Regions from separate parts of the Homo sapiens genome. Here region 1 is linked to region 2. Evidence: fine-mapped expression QTL. Tissue or cell type: whole blood. Region 2 holds a variant in brackets; the other region holds the start of a gene. All regions are shown on one strand. Distances are from middle to middle.

The links. PIP is the estimated chance that this variant, and not a neighbour inherited with it, causes the effect.
Region 1: PIP5K1C starts here. The variant in region 2 is fine-mapped to the expression of PIP5K1C in whole blood (TOPMed, PIP above 0.99).

Annotation. Positions count from the first base shown.
Region 1 is chr19:3,697,165-3,705,259 of GRCh38, reverse strand. PIP5K1C (phosphatidylinositol-4-phosphate 5-kinase type 1 gamma) reads left to right here and starts at 4,792. Exons shown (of 18, transcript NM_012398.3): 1 at 4,792-4,963. The coding sequence starts at 4,870. RefSeq lists silencers at 4,544-5,033, 5,114-5,253 and an enhancer at 4,952-5,735.
Region 2 is chr19:3,652,416-3,660,516 of GRCh38, reverse strand. PIP5K1C (phosphatidylinositol-4-phosphate 5-kinase type 1 gamma) reads left to right here. Exons shown (of 18, transcript NM_012398.3): 6 at 3,960-4,112; 7 at 6,928-7,227. Among named protein-coding and RNA genes, the nearest start is that of CACTIN, 30 kb to the right of the region's middle. RefSeq lists silencers at 4,231-4,280, 4,301-4,410. The variant G/A (reference allele first, on the strand shown) is at 3,879.

The DNA of each region.
Region 1 (8,095 bases), 45 kb before region 2:
CCATGTTGGCCAGGCTGGTCTCGAACTCCTGACCTCAAGTGATCCGCCCACCTTGGCCTCTCAAAGTGCTGGGATTACAGGTATGAGCCACCGTGGCTGGCCCCTTCCCCCAAACTTTATCTGGCACCCAGTTTGCCTGGAAGGGAGGAGTCATGAACACCCAGATTGTGCCCTCCCACCACCCTACTCTGCCCAGTTTCTGGTGTGTGAAGTCTGGGTGGGGGCCTAGGAACCTGCATTTCTTTTACTTTTCATTGTTTGTTTTGAGACCAGGTCTCGCTCTGTTGCCCAGGCTGGACTGTAGTGGTGTGATCATAGCTCACTGCAGCTTCAAACTTCTGGGCTCAAGCGATCCTCCCACCTCAGCCTCCCAAGTAGCTGGGACTACAGGTGTGCACCACCATGCCAGGCTATTTTTGTTTTTTTGAGAGGAGTTTCGCTCTTGCTGCCCAGGCTGGAGCGCAATGGCGAGATCTTGACTCACTGCAACCTCTGCCTCCCGGGTTCAAGCAATTCTCCTGCCTCAGCCTCCTAAGTAGCTGGGATTACAGGCATGCGCCACCATGCCCGACTAATTTTTGTATTTTTAGTAGAGACAGGGTTTCTCCGTGATGGTCAGGCTGGTCTCGAACTCCTGACCTCAGGCGATCCACCTGCCTCAACCTCCCAAAGTGCTGGGATTACAGGCGTGAGCCACTGCATCTGGCCACGCCAGACTAATTTTTAATTTGTTTTGTAGAGATGGGATCTTGCTATGTTGCCCAGGCTGGTCTTGAACTCCTGGGCTAAAGTGATTCTCCTGCCTCAGCCTCAATCCCAAAGCACTGGGATTACAGGCATGAACCACTGCACCTGGCTTTGGAACCTGCATTTCTAACAAGCTCCCAGGGTGAGGCTGATGTGGCTGGCCCAGGGACCACACCTTGAGAGCCAGTGGTCTAAATCTTTTTTCAAAACAGATTCTGGGTGAATCAGGAGCTCTGTCCATGACCTGCGTCCAAAGAACTCTTCCTGGAGCCTTAAAATGGTCAAGGCCGCCTGCAGTGGCTGACGCCTGTAATCCTCACACTTTGGGAGGCCGAGGTGGGCAGATCACCTGACACCAGCCTGGCCAACACAGTGAAATCCCATTTCTACTGAAATTACAAAAATTAGCCAGGTATGGTAGCACACACCTGTGGTCTCAGCTACTTGGGAGGCTGAGGTGGGAGGATCGCTTGAACCTGGGAGGCAGAGGCTGCAGTAAGCCGAGATCACGCCACTGCACTCCAGCCTGGGTAACAGAGCAAGACTCATCTCAAAAAAGAAAAAACAAAAAATGGTAGTAAAATACGCACAACATACAATTCACAATTTTCACCATTTCTTTTTTTTCGAGTCTTGCTCTGTTGCCCAGGCTGGAGTGCAGTGGTGCCATGTTGGCTCACTGCAACCTCTGCCTCTCAGGTTCAAGTGATTCTCCTGCCTCAGCCTCCCGAGTAGCTGGGATTATAGGCCTGTGCCACTATGCCCAGCTAATTTTTTGGTATTTTTAGTAGAGACAGGGTTTCACCACATTGACCAGGCTGGTCTTGAACTCCTGACCTTAGGTGATCTGCCAGCCTCGGCCTCCCAAAGTGCTGGGATGACAGGCGTGAGCCACCGCACCCGGCCCATTTTCACCATTTCTTTCTTCTTCTTCTTCTTCTTTTTTTTTTTTTTTTTTTTTTGGAGACAGAGTCTTGCTCTGTCGCCCAGGCTGGAGTGCAGTGGTGCCATGTTGGCTCACTGCAACCTCTGCCTTTCGGGTTCAAGTGATTCTCCTGCCTCAGCCTCCCGAGTAGCTGGGATTACAGGCACGCGCCACCACGCCTGGCTAATTTTGTATTTTTAGTAGAGACGGGGTTTCTCCATGTTAGTCAGGCTGGTCTTGAACTCCCGACCTCAGGTAATCCGCCCACCTCGGCCTCCCAAAGTGCTGGGATTGCAGGTGTGAGCCCCCGCGCCCGGCCCATTTTCACCATGTCTAAGAGCACAGCTCCGTGGCCTTAAGCACATTCCCATGGCTGTGCAAACATCACCGCCATCATCTCCAGAATGTTCTCATCTTCTGAGACTGGAAGTCTGCCCCTGTGAAACACTCACTCCTCGTCTCCCCCCAAGCCCCTGGCACCCCCCATCCTACTTTCTGTCTCTGTGAATGTGACAACTCTAGGGACCTCCTAGGAGTGGAACCACACAGAATTTGTCTTTTTGTTTTTTTTGTTTGTTTTTTTTTTTTGCGGGGACAGACGGGGTCTTTCTCTGTTGCCCAGGCCAGAGTGCAGTGGTGCGATCATAGCTCACTGCAGCCTTGAGTTCCCGGGCTCAAGCAGTCCTCCCACCTTAGCCTACTAAGTAGCTGGCTAATTAAAAAACAATTTTTTTTGTAAAGATGAGGGGTCTCACTACACCTAGCTAATTAAAAAAATTTTTTTTGTAGAGATGAGAGGGCTCACTATGTTACCCAGGCTGGTCTAGAACTCCTGAGCTCAAGTAATCCTCCTGCCTTGGCCTCCCAAAGTGCTGGAATTACAGGCGGGAGCCTCTGTGCCCACCCCAAACATTATTTATGTGCATAGGTAATATAATCATTATGATTTACATTTATGTAAATAATATAAACGTTATTACTTAAATTAACATAAACAACATAAGCCTTATTATGTGCTTATATAAAGAACATAAATATGGCCGGGCGCAGTGGCTCACACCTGTAATCCCAGCACTTTGGGAAGCTGAGGCGGGAAGATCACGAGGTCAGGCGTTCAAGACCAGCCTGGCCAACATGGCGAAACCTCATCTCTACTAAAAATACAAAAATTAGCCGGGCGTGGTGGCACGTACCTGTAGTCCTAGTTACTTGGGAGGGTGAGGCAGGAGAATCACTTGAACCCTGGAGGCAGAGGTTGCAGTGAGCTCAGATCGCCCCCCTGCACTCCAGCCTGGGCAACAACAGCAAGACTCCATCTCAAAAAAAAAAAAGAAGGATATAAATATTGCTACTTACATTTGCATAAATATATATAATTTATTATGTATTTCTATAATTATATGTTTCTTATAATAGCAAACTGTATTATTATTGATAAAATAATATAAAGAAAACAATAACATATCTATACTTACGTAATACAAACGATGGAATATAAATATTATTTGCAATATGATAATAAACAGGTAGTTAATTGCAAATGTTATTGATATGTATTGCGTAGATCAATGTTAATAACATGTATTGTGTAGATCTATATATATATATATTTTTTTTTGATATGGAGTCTCGCTCTGTTGCCCAGGCTGGAGTGCAGTGACACGATCTCAGCTCACTGCAAGCTCTGCCTCCCAGGTTCACCCTATTCTCCTGCCTTAGCCTCCCAAGTAGCTGGGACTACAGGCGCCCGCCACCACGCCTGGCTAATTTTTTGTATTTTTAGTAGAGACGGGGTTTCACCATGTTAACCAGGATGGTCTCAATCTCCTGACCTCGTGATCCGCCCGCCTCGGCCTCCCAAAGTCTTGGGATTACAGGCATGAGCCACCGCGCCCGGCCCTGTGTAGATCAATATTATTTACATGTACTGTGTATATCACTGTTATTGGTATATTTTGTGCATATCAATGTTATTGACATGTAGTGTGTATATCAATGTTATTGACATGTAGTGTGTACATTAATGTTATTGGCATGTAGTGTGTATATCAATGTTATTGGCATGTAGTGTGTATATCCATGTTATTGGCATGTAGTGTGTATATCAATGTTATTGACATGTAGTGTGTGTATCAATGTTAGTTACATGTATTGTGTAGATCAATGTTATTGGTATTCATTGTGTATAGCAATGTGATTGGCATGTATTGCATATAGCAATGCTATTTGTATGTTTTATGTAGATCCATGTCAATGATATAGTATAGATTCATGTTATTGGCATGTATTGTGTATATCCATGTTATTGGCATGTATTGTGCATATCCGTGTTATTGGCATGTATTGTGTATATCCATGTTATTGGCATGCATTGGGTAACTCCATGTTATTGGCATGTGCTGTGTAGGTCCATGTGTGGTTTTTTTTGGGACAGAGTCTCACTCTGTGGCCCAGGCTGGAGGGCAATGGTGCGATCTCAGCTCACTGCAACCTCTCCCTCCTGGGTTCCAGCGATTCTCCTGCCTCAGCCTCCCGAGTAGCCGCGATTACAGGCATGTGCCACCACGCCCAGCTATTTTTTGTATTTTTAGTAGAGACAGGATTTCACCATGTTGGTCAGGATGGTCTTGAACTCCTGACCTCAGGTGATCCGCCCTCTTCGGCCTCCCAAAGTGCCGGGAATATAGGCGTGAGTCACCGCGCCCGGCCAGATCCATGTTATTGTCATGCGCTGTGCAGGTCCCTGTTATTGGCATGTGCTGTTTAGATCCATGTTATTGGCATGTGCTGTGTACATCCATATTATTGGCACGTGCTGTATAGATCCATATTATTGTCATGTGTTGTGTAGATCCATGTTATTGGTATGTGTTGTGCACAGCAATGTTATTGATACGTATCGTGCCTGTCAATCTTACTGACCTAATACGATGGAATGGCGAGCCTGGCTCTGTACTCCCACCCCTGGGCGCGAGGGGGCACTCGAGGCGCTCCTGGCTGCGGGTCGCAAGCAGGCCCCGCCCCCGAGCCCCGATTGGCCGCGCGCCGTCCGCGGCGTCGCACGCACGCAGGCCCCGCCCCGTCCGCCCCGCGCCGGCCCGGCGCGCCCTCCCTTGGCCGGCGGCGCTTGTTGTTCGGCGGCGGCGGTCGCAGCTCGGGTCCCCCTCGGGCGCCCCCGCCGCCGTCCGCGCGCGGCCATGGAGCTGGAGGTACCGGACGAGGCGGAGAGCGCTGAGGCGGGGGCCGTGCCCTCGGAGGCGGCGTGGGCGGCAGAGAGCGGGGCGGCGGCAGGTAACGGCCCGGCCTCCCGGGGCTGCGGCCCGCTGGGCTCGTCCGAGCGCCGAGAGTCGCGGGGCTGCGGGGCCGGGGCGGGGGCTGCACGGTCGCTGCGGGGGCGCCGCCGGTTCCAGGAGCCTGGGGCGGGGCAGTCCCCTGGAGCCGCGGGGAGGACGGGGCTGAAGCCGCGCCGGGAAGCGGGAGGCCTGCGAGGGGCTACCTCCCACCGCTCCCGGGCCGGGGGCGACTCGGCGTGGGCGCCGCTGGGGATCCCCGTTCTGCCTGACCCGCTCCCAGGGGCTGCCCGTCGTGTGAGTGGCGGCTGCTTGGGTGGAGGCGGGGGTCTCTGAGGCCGTGCGTGCCCACCTCCTGATGTCACCTCCCTTTCTGTAAGTCCCCAGACCTGAGTCCGGGTGCGCGACCTTTCCTCACCTTCCTGGGCCTCAGTTTACCTCCCTGCTAAAATGAGGGGAGGAAAAGGGTTACATCTCAAGATGCCTCCACCGCCCCGGCTGTGCACACAGGGTGCCCTGTCGCCCCCTTTTCCTCTCCCCGAGCCTTCCCCCAGGACACACTGGTGGGGCTGCGGGCTGGGCGGGGGGCACGGCTGTCTCATGCCCCCTTTAGCTGCTTCCTGGACCTCCAGCCGGGTAGGTGGCGGCAGCTGGGCCTTCCCTTCTGTGGGGACGGTGTGCAGAGCCCAGAGGAAGGGAACAGTTCCTTCTCAGTCGAGGTCACAAGCTCCCAAATCGGAAGTTTCCGGATTCACAAAATCCTCTGCTCCTCCCAGGCAGCCAGCAGCAGCGTCTCTGTAGACACCCACACGGGCATCCGTCCTCCTTCTCCCCCCAGGCCTCCCGAAGCTTCCTTGGTTGGCAGGCGGGCAAGCGGGCGGGCGGGCGATGCGTGCTGCCTGGGAGTTGGGGAGATGTCTGGAGAGAGAGAGAGTGTGGAAGTCATCAAGTCCCCCCCCCACCCCCCGCCTTGAAAGACACTCGTGGCTTCCCTCCCGGCGGCCATCTGGAACCGCTTGGTAGGTGACCCGGTTCCTTCCCCAGAGCCAGTGGCCTCGCCCCTTTCTTTGCGGGCAGCCGGTGTCCTGGCCTGGCCAGCAAGAGACATGGTGGAGGAACCCAGGCAGGGCACCAGGCCCCAGCCCGGGTTCCTTTCTTGGGCCCCCCAACTTCCGCTGTCAGCCCTCTGACCCCAGCTGGTCAGAGACAAAGTAGCCCAGGACTCGCTGACCAAAAGAAAACCACACCGCGACCATTCATCTTATCAGGGGCTCTGGGAGCACCGGGGACAGATAAAGTTGCCAGCTCCAGACTGAGCATGGTGGTGGGGTGGGAGAGCGGGGGAGTGGGGGGGTGGGGGTGGGGGGCCGGGGAGGGCTGGAAGGTCAGGGTCTGGCATCTCTGCCCATCCCTGAAATCCACAGAAATCTGACCCCAGCTGGCCATATACTGCTTCTGAATGTTTAAAATTCAGAGTTGCCTCACTCCTCCAACGCCATCCCTCCTGATGTTAGCGCTGGTGAGTTTAGGTTGTGCCTGGCTGGGCCACAGAGACGTGAGCACATAAAGGGGCCTGCTTGTTCTTCACCGAGATGGTTTCATGCCTCACTGGGGCTTCTGTGCCTTGGCAGAGGTATTTTGAGTCAGGAAATTAGGGGTGCTGAGCAACGCCCCTGGCTTCTGCCCACTCCATGCCAGGAGCACCTGCCAGTTGTGACAGCCACAAGTGACCCAGACACCGTTCAGTGTCCCCTGGGGGCAGGACGGCCCTGGTGAGAAATGCCACACGTTTATGACTCTGTGAACTGCTTGCTTTTTATCTCTGGTCATCTGGAGTCTCCCCACCCTATGTTGGTATCGGTTTGTAGAGAGGGCGAGCGCCAGGCAGTGGTTAAGGGGGAGCCCCAGAGTTGGTCCCGCCGATGTCCCCCTCCCAGCTCCGCGCTTCAGGTGCTGTGTGGCCGTCACTTCCCCGGGCTTCAGCGTCCCGTCTGTGAAGTGGGGTGATGACCGTGTGTGCTAGGGGCTGAGCCTGGGATGAGTTGGCGCTCGTGCTTGGTGATTGTCGTGCCGGTTGGCCACCCCTTTCCGGCCTCTCCACCATCGGTGCCTCCAGGCCCCTGCTGAGGCCCATGCCCGTGGTTTCTGGAGTCACCGCTCACTGTTAGAAGCGATGGCGACACCTTCCAGAAAGCTCAGCTACAGCGGGAGCCTTGTCCGACAGGGGCCGAGGGAGGCTGCCCGTTTCCCACGGCACTGCCAGCTCCCAGTGTCATCGTCCTTGGCGATTTCGGCTGATCCGATGGGAGGCAAAGCAATGTCTCGTTGGTGTTTAGAATTTGGTTCCTCTAATTGCCTGGGCTCCTGGCTCCCGAGGCGTGGCCTGAATGGCGTCTCCATGGGCCGTGGCCGTGGGGCACGTGGGGGCGGTCTCGGGAAGGCCGGGGCTTGGGATGCGGCTGTGCCCACTGTGTGGGCCGATGGCCTGTGGTGGAGTTTGGTCTGAGCTGTGGCCTGGGCGTGTCTGAGCCTCTCCCAGGCTGTCCTGTCTCTGTGATGCCCCAGAACGGTCAGCTCCATCCCTGCCCCTGCCCCACTCCCACGGCTGATCTGTCTCTGTGATGCCCTGGAAAGGTCAGCTGCATCCCTGCCCCTGCCCCACTTCCACGGCTGATCTGGCAGCAAATGATGGCAGCTTCACCTTCAGAACTGGCCCAGAACCCACTGACTCCTTCCCTGTCCTCTGCCTCTCCCGGGTCCAGCTTGGTCCTCCCGGGTCCAGCTTGGTCCTCCCTGGTCCAGCTCGGTCCTCCCCGGTCCAGCTCGGTCCTCCTCGGTCCAGCTCGGTCCTCCTCCGTACAGCTCGGTCCTCCTCCGTCTGGCTGAGTACTCCCCGGTCCAGCTCAGTCCTCCTCCGTCTGGCTCAGTCCTCCTCTGTCTGGCTCGGTCCTCCCCGGTCCAGCTCGGTCCTCCTCCGTCCGGCCCAGTCCTCCTCCATCCGGCTCGGTCCTCTATCCGGCTTGGTCCTCCTCCATCTGGCTCGGTCCTCCCGGGTCCAGCTCGGTCCTCCCCGGTCCAGCTTAGTCCTCCTCCATCCGGCTCAGTCCTCCCCAGTCCAGCTTGGTCCTCCTCT
Region 2 (8,101 bases):
AGCAAAGTCAAAATCTAGGCCAACCCCTTTGACCTAGCAGCCCATTATCCGGGCTCCTAAAAGAGGTGTTTGGAGGGTGGTGCTCCCCACAGTGGCCCTGGAGCTCATCAGCGCCAGCACCCCCTTTTTTTTTTTTCGAGACAGAGTCTCGCTCTGTCGCCCAGGCTGGAGTGCAGTGGTGCGATCTCGGCTCACTGTAAGCTCCGCCTCCTGGGTTCACGCCATTCTCCTGCCTCAGCTTCCCGAGTAGCTGGGACTACAGGTGCCTGCCACCACGCCCGGCTAATTTTTTGTATTTTTAGTAGAGACGGGGTTTCACCGTGTCAGCCAGGATGGTCTCGATCTCCTGACCTCGTGATCTGCCTGTCTCAGCCTCCCGTAGTGCTGGGATTAGAGGCGTGAGCTACCGCCTCAGCCTCCCGAAGTGCTGGGATTCCAGGCGTGAGCCCCGGCATCCAACCTGCGCCATCACCACTTCTAAAAGCTCCGGGTGGCCTTTTCCCAAGCCTGCCTGGTCATCCCGAGAACTTTGTATCAGGGAAGACTGGAACTCTGTAGACAAGTGCGGTTGGCGTTCTGGTTGTCACGACAGCACGGTCCCCGGGGCCGGGAGCCTGTGGTTCTCCGATCCTGCCCTCACCCGCGGTGGTCGGTTCCTTGTGCCTTTCTTTGGTGGTTGCTGACTGTGCGTGCGTTTGGTTTATCTCAGTCTGTAGGAAGCGCCCGAGGCTGCGCTCTTCCAGGGAGAACTAGCATGTGCTCCAGCCAGGGGTACGTGTGACACCCCCCCCTCCCCCGCCCCGAGAACTCCAGCCTGTTCAGGTGCCCGGGAGTCACCATGCTCCGGGTCGTGTCGCCAAGGCCCAGCCTCCGGACTTCAGTGTCCCAGCGTTTGCCTGAGCTTGGCAGGGCAGTGGGGAGTGAAAACACAGCTGGGGTTTTTGCCTAGAAATGGCCCTCGGGTGACCTGGACGCTACCGTGTGAGGCGGCCAGGAACAGAAGGCAGCAGCCTGGCTCGTAGCAGAGAGACAGCACCCGTGTCCATTAGCAGGAGTGGACGGATAAAAGCCGATCTGGGGCCATCTGGGTCTCACCTAGAACCCGATAAGATCGCATTCCAGGGCCTTAGGCCAGGTGTGCACCCACAGCATCTGGGGAGCCAGCCCGGTGTTGGTGACCCCCGAATCCTTCTGCTCATCTCAGGAGTGTGAGAATTCTCTTGGGGGCCTCCGGTGCTGAGCAGGCGGCAGCCCCCTAGCCTCTGTCCAGGCTGTGGTGTGAGTGTGGCCGTGTGCCACAGCGGGAGGACGGGCTAGTGTGCGTGTTGCTGTCCACAGGGCCCCTGAGCTTGAGTGGGGACAGGTAGGGTTCGGAGGGGACTCGAGGTTGCCGGTGCTTCTCTGATTGGACAGCTGAGGTCACAGTCCCCCCTGGTAAGGGGGGTAGCTCCAGGAAGGCCCACAGCTCAGGACAGCCAGGAAGGAGAAGGCGGAGGTGGGATGCAGGGTGGGGCTCAGCCCTGCCCAGTGGTCAGCAGAGGGTGGAGAGGAGGCCAAGGTCAGCGGCGCAGCTGCCGAGAGCCCCAGCACCGACGAAGGAGGCTGTGGGGGGTTGTCCTGGCACTGCCTGGCTCAGAAATCCACGCATGGGGCCTGCTTCCCCGTAGCAGCTGAGGCCCATGGAGGCCATAGCCCTGCAACTGCCATTAGTCATGTGGCTTCAGAATTTCCCTGTCATCGGTGTTCTTTGTACAAAGCCGAACGTGCCCTTTCCACAGTGTTTTCCGCTCTGCAGGTGAGATCGGCCTCCCCCTCCTGCCACCGTGGACAGGCAGCAGTGATTTGTGTCTCGGAGGGACACTCCGGCTGCTTGGGGTGTCCCCTGCTCCGGGTGACCTGAGGACAGCGGCCCAGGGCTTGGCGGGGTCCCCTGGCCTCCCAGGGAGGGCGCCAGCCCCAGGAGAGACCCGCCTTCGCTCTGCGCTGCTGCGCCTGTGTCTGGGAGGCTGGAGGGCGTCCTGCCGTGGCGGGGAAGGCGGAGGAGCCGCGTGGGCTCTGTGTTTCCTGTGGATATTTGTGGCTCGTGGCTGTGGGCAGAAAAAGGCAGGCAGATGGCTGGGCTGGGCGACAGCAGTGGCCTGGACAGATCTCCCTCCAGCCTCAGAGTCCACCCCACACGGCTCTCTCACCCTGCACCATCACTCCCAGCCAGGCCATGGCAGAAGCAGCGCATGCAGGAGGAAGGACCCTCGCTGTTCTGAGCTGCCAAGGTTGGCAGGGCTGTTGCTGACTCCGCAAAATCCAGCCTGTGTTGACCGACGTGTGATAACTGATGGCGCCGTTCCCTGGCCCGAGAGCACCTCGGGCAGTGCAGGGCGGGGGTGGTGACTTGAGCCCAAGGAGGGACTGGGGCATTCCCAGGCCCTGGGCCTGATGTGACCTCATGTTTCCGGCGTCCTCTGGTCCCCAAACATATTCACAGATCAGAGTGTGTGTGGCGCTGGGGACCCAACTCACGCCTCAAGCCCCTGGCTCTTCCAGCATTTTCCAAAGGTGGTTCCCCTCACTTGTTGGGGTGTTTTTTTAAACACTCTTGCTCTGTTGCCCAGGTTGGAGGGCAGTGGCGCTGTCACAGCTCACAGCAGCCTTGACCTCCTGGGCTCAAGTGATCCTCCCACCTCAGCCTCCCAAGTAGCTGGGACCACAGATGGGCATCACCATGCCTGTTTTTGTTTTCTTTCTTTTTTTTTTTTAGTACAGATGAGGCCTCGCTCTGTTGCCCAGGCTGGTCTTGAACTCCTGGGCTCAAATGATCCTCCTCAGCCTCCCAAGGTGTTGGGATTACAGAGTGCTGGGTGAGCCGCCGTGCCTGGCCTCCCCTCGCTTCTGCTCGCCACCACTCCTGACTCTCGTGGACACCCCCCACCTGTTTATCACAGCAGCATTGGAGGCGGCACGCAGCACTCGGAGACCACCCTTCTGTCGTCCAGCAGATACGGACCCAGCGTTGACCCTGGGGGGCCTGGCTTGCTCCGCTGATGGGGAGCTGGCTCTGACCTCATCCGTGTACACCAATGGCGACCAGTTAGGATTTTAAAGGGCGTGACACAGATGGCCTTAGCCCCATGCACACTTCATTGGTTCCATACCCGGAAGACGCAGGGTAGCACCCGTGGGTCTCATCTTCATTCTAGTCCTTAGCAAATCGAGCACCTGTCGAGTCAGTGACACAAAAAAACTTCCACCTGCACGGACCTTCTGCCTAATGTCCAGGAGAGGGCGTGGGGGCAGAGAGACAGCGAGCACATCATGAAACAAACAGCAGGGGCTGAGAAAAAGGGGCAGAGAAGTGGGGAGGAAGGGCTTGGACTGTGGGGTGCCAGGGGCCAGAGTGGGGCCTGCCCATCAGAGATGCAGCTTCCATCCCAGAGCTTACCTTCTAGTCCAGTGTGGCTGCTGAGGTTCCAGCCATCACATCAGCATCTCAGGAGGGAAATAGGTGGGAAGGAGAGAAGGGCAAATACGCAGGTATGCCAGCTGCCTGTCGCCCATCTGTGGAGCCTTCCCTGAGTTCCACCTGACAGCTTCTGCTTATGACTCATGGGGCAGAGCTGGCGTTGTGGCCCCACCCAGCTTCAGGGGTGCTGGGAGCACCTTTTAGCCACGCGCGTCAGCACCCCGGTGCGATCAGGTGTCCGCTCCTAAGGAGAGCAGCAGGCAGCCTGGGGAGTGCGCCCTAGCAGACCAGCCCTCGGGCTGCAGAGTCAGCTCGGCCTCAGGCTCCAGTCCTTGCTGGCTAGCCTCAGGCAAGTCTCTCGCCCTCTCTGAGCCTCTCTTTCCGCATCTGTAAAATGCAGCGACCCGTCATCAGTTCCTGG[G/A]GCTGTTGGGCAGACCGGAAGCCAGTGCTGTCTGTGTGTCCGGCAGCTTGGGGCCCGCTGACCCGCCTCCTCTGCTTCCAGTACTCCCTGTGCAATGAGCCGCTGATCGAGCTGTCCAACCCGGGCGCCAGTGGCTCCCTCTTCTACGTCACCAGCGACGACGAGTTCATCATCAAGACCGTCATGCACAAGGAGGCCGAGTTCCTGCAGAAGCTGCTCCCTGGCTACTACATGGTGCGTGGCCCGCCCTGCGGGGCAGATGGCTCCTCGGTCAACCCCCTTCTCCCGGCTGGCGGGAGCAGATGTCTGCAAGGCTTGGGCAAGCAGGCATCCTTGGGGCGTGGTGAGAGGCATCTTGGGTCCCGGGGACTCACCCTCGGGGGTCCCCCGTCAGGCTTCACCAGCACCAGTGTTCAGGAGCCGCCCTCTCTTCCTCCTGTGGCCACACGCCTTGGGGGCCGTCCCCGGGCAGGGCTGGGTGGGCACCGGCCCCTGCCTGGCTCCCCATCCCCACCTTGCCAACACCCCCTATGAGCCGTGGGCCCCAGAACCAGCAGCCTGCGGGCAGCGTCTGTCAGCTGCCACGGAGGCCCAAGGGGCCCAAGGGTGACTCAGAGGGTTCCAGAGAGGAGGGGGATGGGCCACCAGATGGTACCCCACAAAAGACCAGCTGCTCAGGCAGGCGTGAGGCAGCTCCATCCGGCCCACCCCTCATCCCGCATGACTCACAGAAAGGGTGCGTCAGGCCCCGGGAGGGGGGAGTAGGAGTAGGAGCCGGCGGCTGCCACAGTGTTCCTGGGCCTGGGATTCCGGTACTCGCCCAGACGAGGTGGGCGCCTTCCATGTTGCCAGGCCCAAGCTGCTGCCCGGCCCTGGGCAGCACAGCACAGCCTGTGACTCAGTTTCCCTTGAGGCCTCCTCCATCCACTCTCTGTGATGCTTAGCGAGGGGCCCGGGCTCCTTAGATCAGGCTCAGCAAACTCAGTCTTTAAAGGCCCAGAGAGAGTGTTTTTGGCTCTGCGAGCCAGTGTGCTGTGTCTCCAGGACTGAGCTCTGCCTGGATGGCAGCGAGCTGCTGTGACCACATGAGAATGGATGGGCGCGGCCATGTGCCCATACGCATTATTTATGGACCAAGAAATGCGAATTCCATATCACTTTCACGTGTCATCAAAGACTATTTTCTATTTCTCCACTTTTTTATTTATTTATTTATGTTTTGAGACGGAGTCTCGCTCTGTCACCCAGGCTGGAGTGCAGTGGTGCCATCTTGGCTCACTGCAGCCTCCCCCTCCTGGGTTCAAGCCATTCTCCTGCCTCAGCCTCCCGAGTAGCTGGGACTACAGGCGCCCGCCACCACGCCTGGCTATTTTTTTATATTTTTAGTAGAGACATGGTTTCACCGTGTTAGCCAGGATGGTCTCGATTTCCTGATGTCGTGATCTGCCTGTCTCGGCCTCCTGGAGTGTTGGAATTATAGGCGTGAGCCACCGCGCCTGGCCTCTTCATTTTTTTTTTTTTTTTTTTTTTTGAGATGGAGTCTCGCTCTGTCACCCAGGCTGGAGTGCATTGGCGTGATCTTGGCTTACTGCAAGCTCCGCCTCCTGGGTTCAAGCGATTCTGCTGCCTCAGCCTCCTGAGTAGTTGTGATTCCAGGCACCTACCACCACGCCTGGCTAATTTTTGTATTTTTAGTAGAGATGGGGTTTCACCGTGTTGGTCAAGCTGGTCTCCTGACTTCATGATCTGCCTGCCTTGGCCTCCCAAAGTGCTAGGATTATAGATGTGAGCCACTGTGCTTGGCCTTTTTTTTTTTTTTTCTTTTGAGATGGAGTCTGGCTCTGTTGCCCAGGCTGGAATGCAATGGCACAATCTCGGCTCACTGCAACCTCCATCTCCTAGGTTCAAGTGATTCTCCTGCCTCAGCCTCCCAAGCAGCTGGGATTACAGGCATGCGCCACCACTCCCAGCTAATTTTTATTTTTAATAGAGACGGGGTTTCACCATGTTGGCCAGGCTGGTCTCAAACTCCTGACCTCAGGTGATCCGCCCGCCTCGGCCTCCCACAGTGCTAGGATTACAGGCATGAGCCATCGCACTGGGCCCTTTCCACTTTTTAAAAATGGAAAAACCATTCTTAGCTCACAGCCCTACAAAAATAGGTGGTGGCCGGATTCGGCCCAGGGGCTGGAGTTCACCTAGCCTGCCCAGGCTGGTGCCTGAGTCCGCGCCCCTCACTCCTCTCCCTGTGGGTCTGTCTCAGCCCCGACACCTGGGCAGCTTCCCACTGGGTTCGTCATTGAGAGGCTCTGGGCAGGGGGCGCTGTTGCTTCACTTGGGTGCCCCTGAGTCACCCAGTGCCTGCTTGGGGTCTACAGGGTACAGCAGGACCCAGACTCGTCACTGCGCCTGGGGACCCAGATTTGGAGTGAAAGTCTGAGTTGATCAGTTCAACACAGGCAAAGCATAACCAACATAGAGGCTGGGCTCACGCCTGGAGTCCTGGCACTTTCGGAGGCTGAGGTGGGAGGATGGTTTGAGCCCTGGAGGTGGAGGCTGCAGTGAGCTGTGATCGCACCGTTGCACTCCAGCCTGGGCGACAGAGCGAGACCCTGTCTCAAGAAAATACATGTGTGTGTGCGTGTGTGTGTATGTGTTTGTGTGTGCATATACATACATGTATGTATTTTAGGATACAGCATTGCGTTTCCGGCCTCCAGACCTCCCAACAGGCGAGCCCAGCCAGGGCGATGTCTGTGGGCAGGCAGGGAGTGTGGAAGCTTCTGCTGGAACAGAAGCGCCTGCCTTGGGGCCTGGCTCTGTAGAAACAGACCCTCCTGGAGCTCACAGTTGTGGCCCATGAGAGTCAGGGTGCCGTGGGAAGGCCAGCTGGGTGCCTGCATAGGAACGGGGTCCCCGAGGGCTTCTGGGGAGAGAGGGGGGCTGGCCAGGGGCATCCATGAGCCCCCTGAGGCAGAGGCCTGCTTTGCCCGCCCCCGTGAGTCTGTGGCCCAGCCGCCCTCCACGACTTGCCCTCTTCCCCCGGCAGAACCTCAACCAGAACCCGCGGACGCTGCTGCCCAAGTTCTATGGGCTGTACTGCGTGCAGTCGGGGGGCAAGAACATCCGCGTCGTGGTCATGAACAACATCCTGCCCCGCGTGGTCAAGATGCACCTCAAGTTCGACCTCAAGGGCTCCACCTACAAGCGGCGCGCCAGCAAGAAGGAGAAGGAGAAGAGCTTCCCCACCTACAAGGACCTGGACTTCATGCAGGACATGCCCGAGGGGCTCCTGCTGGACGCCGACACCTTCAGCGCCCTGGTCAAGACGCTGCAGCGGGACTGCCTGGTGAGGGCTCGGCCCCGGCCGGGGAGGGAGGGTGGCAGGTGGGACTGCGTGGTGAGGGCTCGGCCTGGGCAGGCAGGGCCAGGGAGGGTGCCAGGCCGAGGCCCACCTGCCCTGCAGCCTACAGCAGGCCCCACCCCAGTGTGGGATCCAGAAGCGCTCAAGCTTTTATGGCCTTAACCTAAAATGTGGCCGGACACAGTGGCTCACGCCTGGGATCCCAGCTCTTTGGGAGGCAGGCAGATGGCTTGAGCCCAGGGTTTCAAGACCAGCAGGGGCAACATTGTGAGACCCCATCTCACAAAGAAAACAAAACACTTATAACATGTCCCCAGACCCAGCCCTTGGGGGTCGGGAGTGTCTGCACTGCTGAGAAGTGGTTCCTCTGGAGGTTACACGATGACAGTGGTAGAGTCCCCCCACCCCCCAGAGAAGAGCCCAGCCTTCAGATGCTGTGGTCACAAGCCCAGAGCTCCCAGCCAGCCATGAGAGCTTGCTGTGCCTCAGTTTCCTCACCCATCAAATGGGATGACTGCTTGCTCTGCAGGCCACAGTGAGGGCCCATGTGCGTCCAGTGAGGGTCTGGCTCCTGTCCCCGTGGAGCCTGCGTTGGCTCCGTGTTAGCGAAAGAATGATATGCACGGCTCTTCCTCTGCCTGGGTTAGCTCCGTCGTCCCCGTCCCACCCCGGCAGCTTCGAGGCATGGAGCCAAGGAGGGGAGGCCCCAGCCTGTCAGGAGCAGAGCCTGGGACCTCCCAGCTCCCCAACTCCACCCAGGCCCCGCTGCTGACCATCCCCAGCTCCCCGACCCCTTTGAGAACTTGACCCATACCCCCAGAAAACCGCCCAGACCACTCAGGGGCCTTGAGGCTACCCT